Regions from separate parts of the Homo sapiens genome. Here all the other regions are linked to region 3. Evidence: fine-mapped expression QTL. A gene starts in region 3. Each other region holds a variant in brackets. All regions are shown on one strand. Distances are from middle to middle.

What was found. PIP is the estimated chance that this variant, and not a neighbour inherited with it, causes the effect. A credible set is the group of variants that fine-mapping cannot tell apart.
Region 1: its variant is the best candidate, but not a certain one, in a credible set for the expression of GZMH in whole blood (INTERVAL, PIP 0.80).
Region 2: its variant is the best candidate, but not a certain one, in a credible set for the expression of GZMH in whole blood (INTERVAL, PIP 0.62).

The regions. Positions count from the first base shown.
Region 1 is chr14:24,524,515-24,528,758 of GRCh38, forward strand. No RefSeq gene overlaps it. Among named protein-coding and RNA genes, the nearest start is that of CMA1, 18 kb to the left of the region's middle. RefSeq lists enhancers at 1,196-1,830, 1,831-2,463. The variant A/C (reference allele first, on the strand shown) is at 2,343.
Region 2 is chr14:24,646,935-24,651,178 of GRCh38, forward strand. No RefSeq gene overlaps it. Among named protein-coding and RNA genes, the nearest start is that of GZMB, 15 kb to the left of the region's middle. The variant G/A (reference allele first, on the strand shown) is at 2,556.
Region 3 is chr14:24,608,010-24,612,253 of GRCh38, forward strand. GZMH (granzyme H) reads right to left here and starts at 1,676. Exons shown (of 5, transcript NM_033423.5): 1 at 1,550-1,676; 2 at 256-403. The coding sequence starts at 1,604.

The sequences.
Region 1 (4,244 bases), 83 kb before region 3:
CTGTCGTACAAATAGAGATGTGTTAAAACGTTCCAGTATGTTTGAGAATTTGTTTTGTTGATTACTGCTTTGTATATTCTGAAGTTATGTTATTAGATGCACATGGTTTAGAATTATCATGTCTTCTTAATGAATTTAACTTTTTAACATGATTAAATGTCTTCTAAAATCTCTAGTAATATTCCTGTCTTTAAAGTTTTCTTTGTGAAGTTAGATCAGCTTTACTTTTTGGTTAGGGTTTTCAAACAATCTATTTTTTCATCTTTTTACTTTCAACTTTTCTGTATCATTATATTTAAGACATTTTCCTTGTAAGTAGTGTATAGCTGTTTTTCAATCCAATATGATCATTTTGTCTTTTAATTAGATTATTTTTGGGGTGCATTTTAAAAAATAATATCTAATATTCATTGAGCACTTACTATACATTATACTAGTCACTGCATTAAATGCTTTTCATATGCTCTGCCATTCAATTCTTACCACAACTCTATTTAGGTAGTAATTGAAATAGTTGATGTAAAATCTACCACCTTACTACCTGTTTTCTATGTTTCACCTGTTATATGTCCTTTTTCTTTCCATTCTTATCTTCTTTTGGATTAATTTCTTAATCATTTAATTTGGCTTCTCTTTCTGCTTGCTAGTTATATGTTTTTTTAAATTCTTTTAATAGTTACCCTGGAGATGAAAAAATAAAGTCTTGACTTATTAAATGTAGTTTAAGTTAGTACTCTTTCCACTTCCTGGAGAATTCAAGAACATTAGAAGATTTTAACTTAATTAGTTCTCTTTAATCTCTTATGTTATCATTGCCACATATTTAAAACCCTACTAAGACATTATTGTTATTGCTTTAGATAGATAATATTTATTAGATTTACTCATGTATTTATCTTTTCTTTGCATTTGATTCATTCTTACATTTGAGTAATTTTGCTAAAAATATTTTATTAATTTGAATAACTTTATATAAATATTTTTCTAGTGGTTTTTTTGGCAAAGAATTCTGTCAGTTTTCTGTTTATTTGGAAATATTATTATTTCACCTCTAGCATTAAAGACTATATTCTTTAGCTATAGAATACTAAGTTGGTAACTATTTTAAAAAAAACCCTTTATACATATATGTTCAGCACCTTAAAGTACATTATATCATCTTATGGCTTCCATTGTTTTTATAATAAGAAACCAGGTGCCAGTCTTATTGTTCCTTTTTTACTTTAATAAATTGTTTGCAACATTTTACTATAATATGGCAAGGTGTGTTTTTCATTTTTCTTTTCAAAATTTATACTTTAAAAATTCTGTAGCTTGATATATTTTATCACTTTGAAAAATTCTTGGTCTTTAGAACTTCAAATATTATTTCTGCTTTATATTCTCTTTCTTCCTCTTTTAAGACTCGAATTTCATTTTACATTAGAATTTCTTGAGGTCGAGCCAAGATGGCCAAATAGGAACAGCTCAGGTATACAGCTCCCAGCTTGAGCGACACAGAAGACAGGTGATTTCTGCATTTCCATCTGAGGTACCGAGTTCATCTCACTAGGCAGTGCCAGACAGTGGGCGCAGGACAGTGGGGGCAGTGCACCGTGCATGAACCAAAGCAGGGTGAGGCATTGCCTCACTTGGGAAGTGCAAGGGGTCAGGGAGTTCCCTTTCCTAGTCAAAGAAAGGGGTGACAGACGGCACCTGGAAAATAGGGTCACTCCCACCCGAATACTGCGCTTTTCCTACGGGCTTAAAAAATGGTGCACCAGGAGATTATATCCTGCACATGGCTCAGAGGGTCCTATGCCCATGGAGTCTCACTGATTGCTAGCACAGCAGTCTGAGATCAAACTGCAACGTGGCAGCGAGGCTGGGGGAGGGGCGCCCGCCATTGCCCAGGCTTGCTTAGGTAAACAAGGCAGCTGGGAAGCTCGAACTGGGTGGAGCCCACCACAGCTCAAGGAGGCCTGCCTGCCTCTGTAGGCTCCACCTCTGGGGGCAGGGCACAGACAAACAAAAGACAGCAGTAACCTCTGCAGACTTAAATGTCCCTGTCTGACAGCTTTGAAGAGAGCAGTGGTCCTCCCAGCAAGCAGCTGGAGATCTGAGAACGGGCAGACTGCCTCCTCAAGTGGGTCCCTGACCCCTGACCCCTGAGCAGCCTAGCTGGGAGGCACCCCGCAGTAGGGGCAGACTGACACCTCACACGGCCGGGTACTCCTCTGAGACAAAACTTCCAGAGGAACGATCAGACAGCAGCATTCGCGGTTCACAAAAATCTGCTGTTCTGATGATACCCAGGCAAACAGGGTCTGGAGTGGACCTCCAGCAAACTCCAACAGACCTGC[A/C]GCTGAGGGTCTTGTCTGTTAGAAGGAAAGCTAACAAACAGAAAGGACATCCACACCAAAAACCCATCTGTACATCACCATCATCAAAGACCAAAAGTAGATAAAACCACAAAGAGGAGGAAAAAACAGAGCAGAAAAACTGGAAACTCTAAAAAGCAGAGCACCTCTCCTCCTCCAAAGGAGCGCAGTTCCTCACCAGCAATGGAACAAAGCTGGATGGAGAATGACTTTGACGAGTTGAGAGAAGAAGGCTTCAGACGATCAAACTACTCCGAGCTACAGGAGGAAATTCAAACCAAAGGCAAAGAAGTTAAAAACTTTGAAAAAAATTTAGACGAATGTATAACTAGAATAACCAATACAGAGAAGTGCTTAAAGGAGTTGATAGAGCTGAAAGCCAAGGCTCGAGAACTACGTGAAGAATGCAGAAACCTCAGGAGCTGATGCGATCAACTGGAAGAAAGGGTACCAGTGACGGAAGATGAAATGAATGAAATGAAGCGAGAAGGGAAGTTTATAGAAAAAAGAATAAAAAGAAATGAACAAAGCCTCCAAGAAATATGGGACTATGTGAAAAGACCAAATCTACATCTGATTGGTGTACCTGAAAGTGACAGGGAGAATGGAACCAAGTTGGAAAACACTCTGCAGGATATTATCCAGGAGAACTTCCCCAATCTAGCAAGGCAGGCCAACTTTCAGATTCAGGAAATACAGAGAATGCCACAAAGATACTCCTTGAGAAGAGCAACTCCAAGGCACATAATTGTCAGATTCACCAAAGTTGAAATGAAGGAAAAAATGTTAAGGGCAGCCAGAGAGAAAGGTCGGGTTACTCACAAAGGGAAGCCCATCAGACTAACAGCGGATCTCTCAGCAGAAACTCTACAAGCCAGAAGAGAGTGGGGGCCAATATTCAACATTCTTAAAGAAAAGAATTTTCAACCCAGAATTTCATATCCAGCCAAACTAAGCTTCATAAGTGGAGAAATAAAATCCTTTACAGACAAGCAAATGCTGAGAGATTTTGTCACCACCAGGCCTGCCCTAAAAGAGCTCCTGAAGGAAGCACTAAACATGGAAAGGAACAACCGGTACCAGCCACTGCAAAATCATGCCAAATTGTAAAGACCATCGAGGCTAGGAAGAAACTACATCAACTAATGAGCAAAATGACCAGCTAACATCATAATGATGGGATCAAATTCACACATAACAATATTAACTTTAAATGTAAATGGACTAATGCTCCAGTTAAAAGACACAGACTGGGAAATTGGATAAGGAGTCAATACCCATCAGTGTGCTCTATTCAGGAAACCCATCTCACGTGCAGAGACACACATAGGCTCAAAATAAAAGGATGGAGGAAGATCTACCAAGCAAATGGAAAACAAAAAAAAGGCAGGGGTTGCAATCCTAGTCTATGATAAAACAGACTTTAAAGCAACAAAGATCAAAAGAGACAAAGAAGGCCATTACATAATGGTAAAGGGATCAATTCAACAAGAAGAGCTAACTATCCTAAATATATATGGACCCAATACAGGAGCACCCAGATTCATAAAGCAAGTCCTGAGTGACCTACAAAGAGACTTAGACTCCCCCACAAGAATAATGGGAGACTTTAACACCCCACTGTCAACATTAGACAGACCAACGAGACAGAAAGTTAACAAGGATATCCAGGAATTGAACTCAGCTCTGCACCAAGCAGACCTAATAGACATCTACAGAACTCTCCACCCCAAATCAACAGAATATACATTTTTTCAGCACCACACCACACCTATTCCAAAATTGACCACATAGTTGGAAGTAAAGCTCTCCTCAGCAAATGTAAAAGAACAGAAATTATAACAAACTGTCTCTCAGACCACAGTGCAATCAAACTAGAACTCA
Region 2 (4,244 bases), 39 kb after region 3:
TGGCTTGCACCTGTAGTCCTAGCTACTCGAGAGGCTGAGTAAGGAGGATTGCTTGAACCTGGGAGGCAGGGGTTGCAGTCAGCTGAGATCACACCACTGCACTCTAGCCTGGGTGACAGAGTGAGACTCCATTTCAAAAAAAAAATTCTTTGAAATACTAGATAAAGAATTGAAAAGGTTGATTATTAAGTTACTCAGGGAGATACAAGAGAAAGGTGAAAAACAATATAAAGAAATGAGAATATCAATTTATAATATGAGTGAAAAATTTTCTAAAGAGGTAGATATTTTAAGGAAAAACCAGTTGGAACTTCCAGAAATGAAAAATATATTTAGAGAATTACAAAATGCAGTGGAATTACAAAACACAGTGGAATGTTTTAACAATAGACTAAACCAAGTAGAAGAAAAAATTTAAAAGACAAGGCTTTAAAATTAACCTAATCAGGCAAAAATAAATAAAAAAATTCAAAGAAATGAACAAAGTCTACAATAAATATGGGATTATGTAAAATGGCTAAACCTAAGAATGGCTGGTGTCCCTGAGGGAGAAGAAAATGCAAAAAGTTTGGGAAATTTATTCGAAGAAATAATTGAAGAAAACTTCCATGGCCTTGCTAGAGATTTAGTCATCCAAATACAAGAAATCCAAAGAACTTCTGGGAGATTTATTGCAAAAAGGACATTACAAAGGCATATAGTCATCAGCCTATCTAAATTTAATGGGAAGGAAATATTTTTAAGAGCAGGGAGAAAAAGGCATCAGGTAACCTATAAAGGAAAGCCTATCAGACTTCTCCGCAGAAACCTTACAAGCTAGAAGGGACTGGGGTCCTATCTTTAGCCTCCTTAAACAGAATAACTGTCAGCCAAGAGTTTTGTATCCAGCAAAATTATGTTTTATAAATAAAGGAGAAATACAATATTTTTTAGACAAGCAAATGCTAAGGGAATTTGTTACTACAAGGCCAGCCCTAAAAGCAATGCTAAAAGGAATTCTAAATCTTGAAACAAAAGGTTGATATGCACCAGAATAGAACCTTTTGAAAGTATAAAACTCACAGGGTCTATAAAACAATAACACCTGTTCACGCTGATGACAGTTTTTTTTGCTGTGCAGAAGCTCTTTAGTTTAATTAGATCCAAGTTGTCAATTTTGGCTTTTGTTGCCATTGCTTGTGGTGGTTTAGTCATGAAGTCTTTGCCCATGCCTATGTCCTAAATGGTATTGCCTAGGTTTTCTTCTAGGGTTATTATGGTTTTAGGACTTACGTTTAAGTCTTTAATCCATCTTGAGTTAATTTTTGTATAAGGTGTAAGGAAGTGGTCCAGTTTCAGTTTTCTGCATATGGCTAGCCAGTTTTCCCAACATCATTTATTAAATATCATCAGAGTGAACAGGCAACCTACAGAATGGGAGAAAATTTTTGCTATCTATCCATCTGATAAAGGGCTAATATCCAGAATCTACAAGGAACTTAAAGAAATTTACAAGAAAAAAACAAACAACCCCATCAAAAAGTGGGCAAAGGATATGAACAGACACTTCTCAAAAGAAGACATTTAAGTGGCCAACAAACATATGAAAAAAAACTCATCACTGTTCATTAGAAAAATGCAAATCAAAACCACAATGATATAACATCTCATGCCAGTTAGAATGGTGATCATTAAAAAGTCAGGAAACAACAGATGCTGGAGAGGATGTGGAGAAATAGGAATGCTCTTACACTGTTGGTGGGAGTGTAAAGTAGTTCAACCATTGTGGAAGACAGTGCAGCGATTCCTCAAGGATCTAGAACCAAAAATACCATTTGACCTAACAATCCCATTACTGGGTATACACCCAAAGGATTATAAATCATTCTACTGTAAAGACATGCACATGTATGTTTATTGCAGCACTATTCACAATAGCAAAGACTTGGAATCAACCCAAATGCCATCAAAGATAGACTGGATAAAGAAAATGTGGCACATATACCCCATGGAATACTATGCAGCCATAAAAAGTGATGAGTTCATGTACTTTGCAGGGACATGGATGAAGCTGGAAACCATCATTTTCAGTGAACTAACACAGGAACAGAAAACCAAATACCACATGTTCTCACACTTAAGTGGGAGTTGAACAATGGCAACACATGGACACAGGGAGGGGAGCATCACACACCAGGGCCTGTCAGTGGGTGGGGATCTAAGGGAGGGATAGCATTAGGACAAATACCTAATGTAGATGACAGATTGATGGGTGCAGCAAACCACCATGGGACATGTATACCTATGTAACAAATCTGCATGCTCTGGATGTGTATCCCAGAACTTAAAGTAAAAAACAAAAAACAAAAAACAATAACACCATGAAGAAAACAAAGTAACTAGGTAACAATCAATATGATGGTGAGGACAGTACTTCACATCTCAATATTAACACTGAAAGTAAATGGTCTAAATGCTCTACTTAAAAGATATGGATTGGCATAATGGATAAAAAAATTACAAACCAAATATCTTCTGTTTTCCAGGGATACATATAACACATAAGGATTCTTATA[G/A]ACTCAAGGCAAAGGGGTGGAAAAAGATATTCCATGCAAATGAAAATCAAAACTAAGCAGGAGTAACCATTCTTATATCAGATAAAAGAGACTTTTAAACAACAACAGTAAAAAAAAGACAAAGAAGGTCATTATATAATGATAAAAGGATCAATCCAACAAGAAGATATTACCATCTTAAATATATATGCACCTAATTCTGGAGCTCCCACATTCATAAAACAATTGTTACTAGACCCAAGAAAAGAGATAACAGCAACACAATAATAGTGGGGGACTTCAACACTCCACTGATAGCACTAGACAGAACATCAAGACAGAAAGTCAACCAAAGACACTGGACTTAAATTGCACTCTAGAACAAATGGACCTAACAGATATTTACAGAACATTTTCCCCAAGAGCTACAGAATATACATTCTTCTCATCAGCGCATGGAACATCCTCTAAGATAGACCATATAGTAGGCCACAAAACATGTCTCAATAAATTAAAAACCATCAAAATCATATCACGTATCTTCTCAGACCACATTGGAATAAAAACTAGAAATCAATTCCAAAAAGGAACCCTCAAAACTATACAAATACATGGAAATTAAACAATCTTCTCCTAAATAATTTTGGGGTTAACAATGAAATCAAGATGGAAATTAAAAAATTATTTTAAATGAATGATAATGTGACACAATTCATCAAAATCTGTGGGATACAGCAGAAGCAGTGCTAAGAAGAAAGTTATAGCACTAAATGGTTTTATCAAAAAGTCTGAAAGTAGCAAATTGACAACCAAATGTTACACTTCAAGGAACTAGAGAAACAAGAAAAAATGAAACCCAAAGCTAGAAGAAGAAAATCAATAGCAAAGATCAGAGTAGAACTAAATGAAATTTGAAGCCAAAAATCCATACAAAAGGTCAATGAAACAAAAAGTTGGTTCTTTGAAAAGATAAACAAAATCGATAGATCATTAGCTAGACTAACCAAGAAAAGAAGAGTGAAGATTCAACTAAGCTCAATTTGAAATGAAAATAGAGACATTACAACCAACACCACAGAAATAGAAAAGATCATTCGAGATTGCTATGAACACCTCTATGTACATGTCTAGAGGAAATAGATAAATATCTGGAAACATACAACCCTCCTAGCTTGAATCAGGAAGAAACAGAAATTCTGAACAGACCAATAACAAGTGGTGAAATAGAATCAGTAATAAAAAAATTGCCAAGAACAACAAAAACAACAACAAAAAACTCAGAGCCAGTGGATTCACAGCTGAATTCTACCAGCCATTCAAAGAAAAATTGGTACCAGTCCTACTGAAACTATTCCAAAAGATTGAGAAGAGGGAATCACCCCAAATTATTCTATGAAGCCAGTATCATCCTGATACCAAAGCCAGGAAAGGACATAACAACAAAAAAAGAAAACTACAGACCCATATCCCTGATTAACATACATGTAAAAATTCTGAATAAAATATTAGCAAACTAAATCCAACAGAAAATCGAAAAGATATGTCATCCCAGGGATGTAGGGATGGTTCAACATACTCAAGTCAATAAATGTGATTCATCACATAAACATAATCAAATACAAAAACTACACGATCATTTCAATCAACACAGAAAAAGCATTTGATAAAATTCAGCATTGCTTTATGATAAAACTCTCAACAAACTAGGCA
Region 3 (4,244 bases):
CCTTTACTACTGCCTTATTGGGCCAGTGTGTGAAACCATGCCACTTGCTCTGACCTCTGACCCTCTGACCCTCTGACCCTGTCCTATTTCTCAGCCTTTCATCATCTTAGTCCTATTCCCAGGTGGCTGCTCCGATGAGCTTTCATGGGCTTGTGTTACCAGGAACTCTGGAAGCTCCCCTGGGCTGCAGTCCCCAGGAGAAAACAAGGGTCCCTGTAGGGGGAACTCAGGAGGTGAGCTGGTGCTGCTCCTTACCTTCCCTGGCAGTGAGCAGCTGTCAGCACAAAGTCCTTTCTCACTAGGATGCCGCCACACCTCTTCCGACTCTTCTCTTGCAGAAACTGAACAAAGGCCATGTAGGGGCGGGAGTGGGGCTTGGCCTCATGGCCCCCGATGATCTCCTCTGAAAGGAAAGACTGGAAGATAAAGTAGCTGGGGATGGCTGCAGTCAGGAGAGAAGGCTTAGGACGACAGTGATTGAGGGTGAAGTGTTTTGTGTGCTGCAGACAGTGAGGGAGGGGTCCTCCTGAGCTCTGCAGGCAGTACTCCTTGCAGGCAGAGCAAGCTTTTCTGAACTTTAAGTCTCAGAACCTTCTCTCAGAAAGAATGGACAGTGCTTGACTTCTGCATCCTACTGCAGAAACACACATGGAGGAAGAAAGATCTATTTTCACAGTGGTAGAGCCCCAGAGGATCCTGGACAGGACTTCCCAGGCTCCTCCTTTTTAGTGAGTCTCTCTGATTCCTCTGAGCCTCTGCTGTCCTCCTGATTGGTGCCATTTTCTAATGATCTACCCATGAGCTTCTGGAGTTGGATTTTCTAAAATTCTCATGTGCCAGGGCTGAACACATTCTAGGTTCTCAGTAAGTGTTGTTTGGTGCATAAATGAATAGCCTCCAATTAGCCTTTGGCTGAGGTTTAGTGGGGGTAGTGCTGGTGGGATTCAGGACCTCAGGGATGTTAGAGGGGGTTATCACCAGGTCAGTGGAGTAGCTGAGGGCCTGCAAAGGCAGAAGGAAGTGGAGAAATCAACTAAAAATGAATCGCAAAGCCCAGGTGGAGCCAAGGTAATGGGAGAGCTATGGACACAGTCATCTTGCCATCTCTGAGATCAGTTGCACCATGGGCTTCCCTCCTGGCAGGGGTGACTGGGTGGGGGCACTGAATAAGTGGTTCTTAAGCTGAGTCCAGTAACAACTCCTATGACTGCAACTTGGTGTCTGAGCTCCTCTTTCCTGGGTTGGAGTGTAGAGTAATAATTACTTATCTTTTTTAGCTTCACATTCCCTACCAAATGCCTTTCTAAGAACAATCCACACTCCAGGTCATAAAGGAGAGGTCTAGGGAGAGGCTAACACCCATTAAACCTTTTAGGGAACACCCTTCATTTTTCGATCTTTGCTGAGTGTCTATCTAGCCTCAGATTTATAAGTCTGGGTGTGGAATGGGAGGTGGGCTCAGATTGAGGAAAATTCCTGACCAGTGCTCATGGGTACAGGGTATCTTATAAGATGGGTTCAGGCCTCTGGAATAGGGATAGTCACTTACCTGTCCCAGCCCCAGGGGTCAGAAGAAAGGCCAACAGGAGGAGGAATGGCTGCATTTTCTCAGGAAGGCTGCCCAGGTCAGAGCTGTTGGTGTTGACTCCTTCCAGAAACAAATGCTGGAGGGAGATGAAGGAGGGATGGGTACAGTAAACTCAGAGACCTCCTAGACTTGTCCCCTTCTGGTTTTGATGGGTGTCATTATAGAAGGTGGTTTATTAAAATTATCTGGTTTGGTTTAAGTTGACATGGCACTGTCACATTTACACCCCTGCTGCTGAGTAACAAGGTGAAAGCAAGAATAAAGAACAAGGAGGTGGAGCTGTTGAAGCTGTGGCTGCAGCTAGCAGAAAGGCTGGTACTGCAGAAGCTCCTCAGTGACTGAGAACCAAGAATGTCTCCTTTTCTCAGTTCTTGGCTCTTTTTCTACTCAGATAAAATCATGAATAATTATTTAGCAAGCCAGATCCAGGGATATGAGAGACATGGCTCTTGCCCTTGAAGAATTGATGGTTAGCAAGAGTAGACTGAAAATCTGGGGTTAGAGCACAAGATGGTAAGGGCCGTGGTGGGGAAATCTGCCTGTTGGTGTGAGACGGAGGCTGGACTTGCCTTAGCAGTATGCAGAGTTGCACACACCCAACAAATACTGCAAATGGCAACCCATTCCTATCTTACCACTATCTCAGATTCATATTTTTGGGATATTTAGAATCCCCTCTTTAAATATAAATATTCTGTGACAAAGATAACTTTTTTTATTCCACAGTTCTGCACAAAAGTTCTGGACTTGATATTTATTGAACCAAAATGAGTCATCATTGGGTCCACTGAAGTGTAGTGGACTGATTGCTTTATGCTTTGGTTATTTAGCCCTCCTTAAGCTGAGGTGGGGACTGTTCCACTCCATCTATGGTGCTTATGAATGAGGAGGGGATTTCCCTTGAGAAATGCTAGTTGTTGTTGCCAGGTGATGGAAAAATGGATGCTGATCATCCTGATAATAATTGTTCACTAAGGCCGGGCGCGGTGGCTCATGCCTGTAATCCTAGCACTTTGGGAGGCCAAGACGGGTGGATCACGAGGTCAGGAGATCGAGACCATCCTGGTTAACATGGTGAAACCCCATCTCTACTAAAAATACAAAAAATTAGCCGGGCGTGGTGGCGGGCTCCTGTAGTTCCAGCTACTTGGGAGGCGGAGGCAGGAGAATGGCGTCAACCCAGGTGGAGCTTGCAGTGAGCTGAGATCGCGCCACTGCACTCCAGCCTGGGTGACAGAGCGAGACTCCATCTCAAAAACAAACAAACAAACAAACAAAAAACTGTCCACTAAGTATTCTCTCAGTTTCCAGAGAGCCATGTCTCTGATGTCCCTTGGCTCACAGTCATAGGCTGTCCATAAACAAAAATGTGTATATATACATATGTTTGTATATTTATGTATATGAATATATATAAATATATATGTATAGTTAAGTAGGAACATGTAAATGATAAAATTAAACTTACCAAAAATTCTACCACCGGAGATCATTATTAATGCTTAAGCATGTTTCCTTCTACTATTTTTCTAGGTATTTATAAGGTGCTATTCCTGCTATTACTTTAACAGAACTGGGATAGGACTTTAGGTGATAGACTTTTTTGTGATGAATTTTCCAGGTGTTCTTTGAGCTTCTTGTATTTGGATGTCTAGGTATCTAGCAAGGACAGGGGAGTTTTCTTCAATTATTTCCTCAAATAAGGTTTTCAAGCTTTTAGATTTCTCTTCTTCCTCAGGAACACCAATTATTCTTAGGTTTGACTGTTTAACATAATCCCACATTTCTTGGAGGCTTTGTTCATTTTTTAAAAATTATTTTTTCTTAGTCTTTGTTTGATTGGGTTAATTTGAAAGCATTGTCTTTGCGCTCTGAAGTTTTTTCTTCCGCTTGTTCTAGTCTAGTGTTGAAACTTTCCAGTGGATTTTGTATTTCTCTAAGCATGGCTTTCATTTCCAGAAGTTGTGATTATTTTTTCTTTATGATATCTATTTCTCTGGGGAATTTTTCACCCATATCCTATATTTATGTATATATATATTTTTTAATTTTTAAAGTTGTTTTTTCACCTTTCTCTGGTATCTCCTTGAGTAGCTTAATGATCTTCTGGATTGTTTATCTGGCAATTCAGAGATTTCTTCTTGGTTTGGATCCATTGCTGGGGAGCTAGTGTGATCTTTTGGAGGTGATATAGAACTCTGTTTTATCATATTACCAGAATTACCTTTCTAGTTCCTTATCATTTGGGTAGACTATTTCAGTGGAAAGGTCTGGAACTCAAGTCCTGCTGTTCAGATTCTATTATCCCATGGGGTGATCCTTTGATGTGGTGCTCTCCCCCTTCCCCTAGGGATGGGACTTTCTGACCACTGGACTGCATTGGCTGTTACTGCTTTTCTGGGTCTAGCCTCCCAGTGGCGCTACCAGGTTCCAGCTGGTGCTGGGGAATGTCTGCAAAGAGTCCTGTGATGTGATCTCTCTTCAGGTCTCCCAGCCATGGATACCATTACCTGCTCTGGTGGAGGTGGAAGGGGAGTGAAGTAGACTCTGTGAGAGTCCTTGGTTGTAGATATGTGTAGTGTGCTGGGTTTCTTGAATGCTGGTTATGCTAGCAGTGAAGTTTTCATGTGGACACACTCAGGACCTCTGTTTAGCC